2 linked regions of the Homo sapiens genome follow. The protein of the gene in region 1 interacts with the protein of each later gene in a pairwise test. Each region holds a gene or a part of one and is shown on either strand. Other genes may lie near its edges.

What was found. The genes of interacting proteins can lie anywhere in the genome.
Region 2: the proteins of MGAT5B (region 1) and SMUG1 interact in a two-hybrid assay, tested with the Homo sapiens proteins (one large-scale study listed by BioGRID).

Annotation. Positions count from the first base shown.
Region 1 is NC_000017.11:76,901,960-76,907,017, forward strand, and holds part of MGAT5B (alpha-1,6-mannosylglycoprotein 6-beta-N-acetylglucosaminyltransferase B), read left to right. Parts: intron 1-595; coding exon 596-711; intron 712-1,343; coding exon 1,344-1,417; intron 1,418-2,292; coding exon 2,293-2,463; intron 2,464-3,209; coding exon 3,210-3,374; intron 3,375-4,058; coding exon 4,059-4,228; intron 4,229-5,058. UniProt on the Homo sapiens protein: Glycosyltransferase that acts on alpha-linked mannose of N-glycans and O-mannosyl glycans.
Region 2 is NC_000012.12:54,182,926-54,185,985, reverse strand, and holds part of SMUG1 (single-strand selective monofunctional uracil DNA glycosylase), read left to right. Parts: intron 1-2,026; 5' UTR 2,027-2,045; coding exon 2,046-2,330; intron 2,331-3,060.

The sequences.
Region 1 (5,058 bases):
TCACATGTGCAGATATGGGCACACGTGCCATTGTGGGCACACATGCAGATGTGGGCACATGTACAGTTGTGGCCACACATGCAAATATGATTACATGTGCAGTTATGGGTATGTGTGCAGTTGTGGGCGCACATGCAGTTGTGGGCACGTGTGCATATGTGGGGACATGTGCAGATGTGGGCACCTGTACAGTTGTGGGCACACGTGCAGTTGTGGCCACATGAAGACATGTTCTCTGACTGCTCAGGGAAGGTGGACATGAGGCCTGGGGCCGAGGGGTGGGGGATGTCCACTAAAGGGCTCTCTGCAGATATGATCACACATGCAGTTGTGGGCACAACATGCAGTTGTGACCAACATGTGCAGATATGGGCTTTCCCGTATGTCTGTAATGTGTGTACTGGATGGGGTGGGCTGCCAGCTCCATCTTCTCACCCGATTCACTCCCCACCATTTGGTCTGCTTGGGGTCAGGGTTTGGGAGCCTGGGGCATTGCAGAGCCTGCCGCCTTTGCCTGTGGGCCTTACTGGCAGGACCCTCATGGGAAGGTCACCCCGGCCGGTTCTGTGGCTCACCTCTGGCTTTTCCCACTTAGGATGCCCCCTGGGGCCGGCCTCATGGAGCGGATCCAGGCTATTGCCCAGAACGTCTCCGACATCGCTGTGAAGGTGGACCAGATCCTGCGCCACAGTCTGCTCCTGCACAGCAAGGGTGGGTGCCAGGGGGCGGGGGTACCCTCTACCCCTAGGGGGCCAATGAACTGGGTGCTGGGTGGGCCCTGGGAGGGTGGGACACTTGGGGTGTGGCCGACTTCTCCTGACAGCAGCTCTGCTGGCTCTTCGGGGCCCCAGTTTAGGCTTTCAGCAGGACAACTGGGGGTTCACTCCCTCGACCCGGCAGGAGGGCGCTGAGGACAGAGGAGGTCCCTGGAGTCTCAGCTTCTGGGGTCCACAGTTCCAGGAGTGAGGCCACCTGGGGAAGGGTCCCTCGGCGGCCCCTCCAGTCCCTGTGATGTGGGGAGCAGCGAGCTGGGGGCTGCAAACCTCATTTCTGCCTCCTCAGAAAACGCTGGGGATGCTTTCGGGTGGGTGCATGAGGTCTGCCCATCCAGGCAGCTGCTGAGTGGCTGTTCGCACCAGCTCCTCACTGCATCTGAACCCCCTGAGGAGGCCGGGGGCAACCTAGGCCCGGGTTGACCTTGTGGGTGGGTTGTGCGGCTGATGAGCTTTAAGGTGGGAAAGCCTGGCAGCGGATTGTGTGGGAAGCTGCCTCCCGCACGCAGGCCTCCCTCCCTGGGCTCCTCCTTGGACCAGGGACTTCAGCAAGGTGACCTCTCCCTACAGTGTCAGAAGGCCGGCGGGACCAGTGTGAGGCACCCAGTGACCCCAAGTTCCCTGACTGCTCAGGGAAGGTGGAGGTGAGGCCTGGGGCTGAGGGGTGGGGATGTCTACAGCTAGGGCCTCTCTGTCTGGCCCTGGCCCCTCACCCAGGCACAAGCTGGCAGAGGCCAACCTCAGGGAAACAGCTTCTCTGCTCAGTGCATCCACCCCACCCATCAATCCAAATCCCCCAGAAAGAGTCTCCCTCAGGTGTCGGTGCTTTCTCACAGCAAATGATTAAATCTCCAAGTGTCACCGCCAGCAGCCGGATTCCCCCAGAGACTCAGAGGAGTGGCCCTGGCTGCCCTGTCCCTGCTCCTCCTGGCCCAGCCAACAGCTGGACGGAGAGTCTTCCTGCCCCATTTCTGGGGCCACCACTGGCTGCATGAAGTCTGCCCTTGTAGGAGTCGTCCACAGCCGTGAAGTCAGCTCCCCACTGGTTCTGAACGCCCTAAGGGGTGGGCGGTGGTGCCGCAGACCCCTTCCTTGGTGACCATCTGGGATCACTGCAGGTGGATCCCGCCCTGGCTCCAGCCCTGGCCGCCTTGGAGGCTGCTCCCTGACCTTGGCCTCTAGCCCAATCCTGCTCTGGTAGCAGGGAGACGGGGACCAGAGGGAGAGGGAGACAGCCAGGCCTCCTGGCTCTTTGCCCCAGACCTTTGAGCCAGTGTTCTCTCCCAGTCTCTCCTCTTTCCAGACATGAGGGCTGGTGGTCCTGCCCCTGCCATCTCTGGGGTCCTTCAGGCGGGTCCTGGTTCAATCTCTTCTCTGCCCTGTCCCCTGTTGCATCAGTAGGGTGGGCCACATGGGCCCCATCCTTGACCTCAGGACCCCTGGGGGTGCACGTGCGGGGGAGTCCCCGAGGGTCAGTGGGGCTGGCGCAGCCCCCTGCCCAGCCTGGCCCTCTCTGCAGTGGATGCGTGCCCGCTGGACCTCTGACCCCTGCTACGCCTTCTTTGGGGTGGACGGCACCGAGTGCTCCTTCCTCATCTACCTCAGTGAGGTCGAGTGGTTCTGCCCCCCGCTGCCCTGGAGGAACCAGACGGCTGCCCAGAGGGCACCCAAGCCCCTCCCCAAAGTCCAGGTGGGCCTGGGAGGTGGGTGGGCCGGTGAGGGGCTGGTGTGGCTGGACATTCTTAAGGACAGTGGACAGAAACCTCTGTCCTGAGGGAATGAGACTGAGCTGCTTGCCAGGTGTGTGGGCAGGTCCGAGCCCACCCTACCGGGCAGACGGGAGGCCAGCCTGCCAAGGCCTGTCTGCCTTCTTTGAGATGCCACCAAGCTGGGCCTGTTTGCAGGGCAGGTGGGGGGCCTGGAGATGCCCCCTTAGTGGACTAGAATAGTAGTAATAGCAGCTGTCACTTATTGAGGGTTTTCTGTGTCCAGATGCTTTATTTGCACTTAAAGTTCCCAGCCATCCTTGTATGATCGTATTTGACAGACGATGCATCTGAGGTTTACAATTGAATTAATGGGTTCGAGGCGCATAGTTGCTGTGGTGGCCACGTCTGTCCCCTGCCATCGGAGTCCTGGCTATGACCACCACCCTCACTGCCTCCCTGTCATGGCTGGGAACCTGGAAACTGCTATGGTTGGCCACCTCCGTGGAAGGGCTAGGGGCCCATGGTTAGAGCTGGGCTGGGGAGGGTGTGTTGACAGGGCGGGCAGGGCTCCCTGGTTTTGGGGGCTAATGAGCCCCTTAGAAAGTGCAGGAGAAGCTGGAGCAGGCCCCAGCCTCATGGGAGGGTGCCAGCCCCTGTCCCCAGGCCAGCGGGGAATGATGGTGGCCGCAGGTTGAGGGGCAGAGAGCTGAGGTCTGGACCCCTCCAGGCAGTTTTCCGAAGCAACCTGTCCCACCTTCTGGACCTGATGGGCAGCGGGAAGGAGTCCCTGATCTTCATGAAGAAGCGGACCAAGAGGCTCACAGCCCAGTGGGCGCTGGCTGCCCAGCGCCTGGCACAGAAGCTGGGGGCCACCCAGAGGGACCAGAAGCAGGTGCGTGGCCCCTGCCCCCTCATGTGCAGGAGCTGAGAAAGCTCAGGGCCCCCACTTCTGAGTGGGCATGGAATAGGTCTTCAAACAAGCTGTAGTGGGCTTCTGAATTTGATCAGAGGGAGAGAGGGGTAGGGATGGCAGAGTCGGGATAGATGTCTGTGGTGGTGGCCCCTGGCCCTTTTCAAGGTTGGGACCAAATGACAAGCCCCCAAGAGGTCCTGCATTCTGTGTACATCTGGTTCATGTCAGGCAGAAAAGTCATGGTATTGGCCTGGAAAGTTGGGAATGTTCTGGGGAGCTTCGTTAGCTCATGCCTCCATTCTTCCTTCCCTCCTTCCTTCCCTCCCTCCCTCCCTCCACCCAGTAGATATTTACGTGGCTCTCACATTGCCCTTTTATTTCTTTCAGAGCCCTTATCATTTCATGAAATTATCTCTTGTCTGTGTTCACTGTTGTCTACCTCTTCCATCTGGAACATTAGCTCCATGAGGGCAAGCACGTGACTATCTTGTTCGCCCGTGTCCCCAGTGCCCGATCTGGTCACTCTGGTGCCGGAAAGCACCTGCTGGGGCCCAGCCTGGAGACAGGGTCTGCTGCCGGCTGGTCTCCTGGCCGGTGCCCCGGGGGGGCGGGGCTCAGAGCTGCTGCTCCTCTCTGCTGACCCTCTGTGTTCCGCCCACCCAGATCCTGGTCCACATCGGCTTCCTGACGGAGGAGTCCGGGGACGTGTTCAGCCCTCGGGTCCTGAAGGGCGGGCCCCTAGGGGAGATGGTGCAGTGGGCGGACATTCTGACTGCACTCTATGTCCTGGGCCATGGCCTGCGGGTCACAGTCTCCCTGAAGGAGCTGCAGAGGTGAGTGCTGGGGAAAGCCACTGGCATTAAGTGGGGCAGGGAGGGGATGAAGGGGAACCCCACCCCTCCCTCCCAGGGGCTGTGGGAGCACCTGCTCTGCCTGCAGGTCCCACGGCCCTGAGACCCTGGGAGACATCCTGGTGTTCCGCAGGACATCACCACTCCTAATCCCCCTCCTCCTGCCCGGTCTTGGGGGATGTGGCAGGGAAGTGTATTTGCATAGCGCTGTCTGGCCAGGGCCTGGCTCCTTCTCTGGTGTTTCTGCTCAGGGGCTGACACGTGTTGGCTTGTGGAATTGAGCCACGTCTGCACGTGGGGTCCCCTCTGCCTGCCGTCCTGGAAGGCTTGGTTTCTCTTCTGAACCTGGGCTCCTTCTTGGGTCTACTTTAGGGTCTGGAGACCAGTAAGACATGGAGGATGAAGGGGCGTGGTTGGGTGGGTGGTGCCTGTCCCTTACCCAGTGCTGGGCTTTTCACGGTCCCTTGGATGCTGTGGGAGGTGGAAGGGCAGTGATTAGAGGCTCCCCTGAGTGTTTGAGGGTAGGATGGGGGTGAGGCTGAGAGTGTGGGGATGTCAAGGGGGTAAGAGTGTGTGATTGGGTTTATTTTTAATCACTGTTTCTGTGGGATGTAGGAATACAGGAGATTCTTCTCTTTATTAATATTTATTGTAAGATATATGATGCATACAAAGTCTATGTAAAGTATGTTGTGAAACACAACAGTCAAATCACCTCCCATGTGTGACCATCCATTTAAGATCATGCTGTCACCAAGGACTCTGGGTTTGCCTGAGAGTGTCTGCCAATCTCTCTGCCTCCTCCCCAGATG
Region 2 (3,060 bases), on another chromosome or scaffold:
TGAAGCAATGGCCTTTGCAGTTTACAAAGCTTGCTGTCATGTTCCTGCCCCCTCCCTTCTCCTTCCTCCCACCTCCCTTCTCTCTTCCCTTTCTTCTTCCTCTCCCATTTCTTTTCTCCCTTCACCTAAACATAACATCTCATTCCATCCTTACGTCTGTTTGTTTGTTTTGAGACAGTCTCCCTCTGTAGCCCAGGCTGGAGTGCAGTGGCACAATCTCGGCTCACTGCAACCTCTGCCTCCCAGGTCCTGGTTCAAGCAATTCTCCTGCCTCAGCCTCCCATGTAGCTGGAATTACAGGCACGTGCCACCATGCCCAGCTAATTTTTGTATTTTTAGTTGAGACGGGGTTTCACCATGTTGGCCAGGTTGATCTTGAACTCCTGACCTCGTGATCCACCTGCCTCAGCCTCCCAAAGTACTGGGATTACAGGCATGAGCTGTTGCGCCCGGCAAATTTATTTATTTATTTATTTATTTATTTATTTATTTATTTATTTTTTATTTTATTTTTTTTTGAGATGGAGTCTTGCTCTTTTGCCCAGGCTTGAGTGCAGTGGCACGATCTTGGCTCACTGCAACCTCAGCCTCCCGGGTTCAGGCAGTTCTCCCTGCCTCAGCCTCCCGAGTAGCTGGGATTACAGGTGCCCACCACAACGCCCAGCTAATTTTTTTTTTTTGAGAGAGAGTTTCACTGTTGTTGCCCGTGCTGGAGTGCAATGGCACGATCTTGGCTCACCGCAACCTCCACCTTTCAGGTTCAAATGATTCTGCCTCAGCCTCCAGAGTAGCCGGGATTACAGGCACGTACCACCATGCCTGACTAATTTGTATTTTTAGTAGAGGTGGGAGTTTCTCCATTTTGGTCAGGCTGGTCTCGAACTCCCGACCTCAGGTGATCTGCCCACCTCAGCCTCCTAAAGTGCTGGGATTACAGGCTTGAGCCACCACGCCCAGCATGCCCAGCTAATTTTTGTAATTTTTAGTAGAGACGGGGTTTCGCCATGTTGGCCAGGCCAGTTTTGAACGCCTGACCTAAGGTGATTCAGCCGCCTTGGCCTCCCAAAGTGCTGGGATTACAGGCATGAGCCACCATGCCTGGCCTTCCTTATGTCAACATTATTAAGTGGATATTATTATTCTTTGTATTTGAAGGTGGAAACCTGAGGCTCTGGCCATGGTTGTGTAGCTCGTAAGATTCTATGAGGAGTCTGTAATCATCCTACTCGGTATTCCTGAGTGTGGGAAAGAAGCTAGGCTGGGGTTAGGGGGTTGTAGAATTAGCAGGGTGGCTGATCAAACCATCTAAGGCAAGATGGCGTGGGTGGTTAAAGCATAGCCTTGAGCCAGAGAGATTGGGCTCAACCAAATCCAGCTTTATTACTTACTAACTGTAAGACCTTGGGCAAGTTGCTTAATCTTGCTAAGCCTCAGTGTCCTCACTTATAACAGGGGAGCAGTAATACCCACCTCATGGGATTGTTGTGAGGATCAATGAGGTGTACCTGGTGCAGAGCAGTCGCTCACCACCTGGAAGCTATTGTAATTAGCCTTCCCAGGTCTCTGGGCTGTGGCTGTGCACTTGCATTTCATTCTTCAGCGCCGTGCTTTCCAGAACAGTCCATTCTGGCTGGGCTTTTCTTTTTTAGGATGACCTTAAAGGTGCTGAAAGGATGCCACCAGTAAATGTTTATTGAAAACCTACTATGTGCTCGGCATAGCCCAGGAACTAGTGACCTATGCCTGATGGAAAGGAGATTTGGAGTGGGAGATGTTTGGTGGCTATGGCTTATCCTCACCAGGTGCCATGTGAAGAGGACAGATAATGGAAGTGGGGAGGGAAAGGGCCCTTCATTACCAAGAACTGAGATGAGTTCAGTCCTACTTGGTGGTTGGTAGATGACTGACATGGTCTCTTAGGGTCCCTTCTGAGCCCAGGAAATGGTAGTGGGGGCCCTGGCAAGCATGGATCCCTCCTACTCTGTGGCTGAGGGTTGATGGGGCTTCTGTCCATCTCTTTTCCCAGGTGACAGCGGCATGGACATATGCCCCAGGCTTTCCTGCTGGGGTCCATCCATGAGCCTGCAGGTGCCCTCATGGAGCCCCAGCCCTGCCCTGGAAGCTTGGCTGAGAGCTTCCTGGAGGAGGAGCTTCGGCTCAATGCTGAGCTGAGCCAGCTGCAGTTTTCGGAGCCTGTGGGCATCATCTACAATCCCGTGGAGTATGCATGGGAGCCACATCGCAACTACGTGACTCGCTACTGCCAGGGCCCCAAGGAAGTACTCTTCCTGGGCATGAACCCTGGACCTTTTGGCATGGCCCAGACTGGGGTAAAGGGTTTGGCTTCCCCAGTGGGTGGAGTGGGGGGTTCTAGGTGGATGCTTGGCTGGGTGTGCTGTGGAGAAGGAGCATGTGCATGGCTGTAGACATGTGTAGGTCCTCCCGCCCCATTCTGTCTCAACACATATACTGGCTCCTGTGGTCCGAGGCCCTCTCCCAGCGTCTCTGCCCGTAATTAACCAAGCACATTAATGGTAGTTTCGTTTTCCCTGTGAGCTGGCCAGTAATTGCCTCTGAGAGCCCTTCCTTCCGCCAGCCCCATCCTTACTTTACTGGATCTCCCCTGTCCCTGAAGTGTGGTTGGGGTCAGAAGAGGGACTAGGACTGCTGGGTCCTCAGAAGAGACTGGTTGACAGGGGTGGGTATGTAAGAGATGCAGGGCGTTCTGGGAACCTGGGTTCTGTTTCCTAGCTAAGGCGAGGTTCAAAACAGAGCCTGGCTCCAGTGCCTGCCCGCTTTTCTTTCAGGGCTCAGGATGAGTGACTGCCCCCAGTGGGGGTGCTTGGCAGGTGGGGGAGGGGAAGAGGCTTCAGGGCAGAAGGCTCAATCGCTTTTATTGACCCCAACTGGGTGATGAAAGGTGATCAATGATGATCGATGGAAATGACAGCCTGAGGCTTGGGGCTGAGAGGGCATCCAGACAGCAGTGGTCAGCCCATCCTTGTGCCTCCTTTAACCCTGGCTGCCTTTCTGTCTCAGACCATCTGTCTGTCCCCAGTA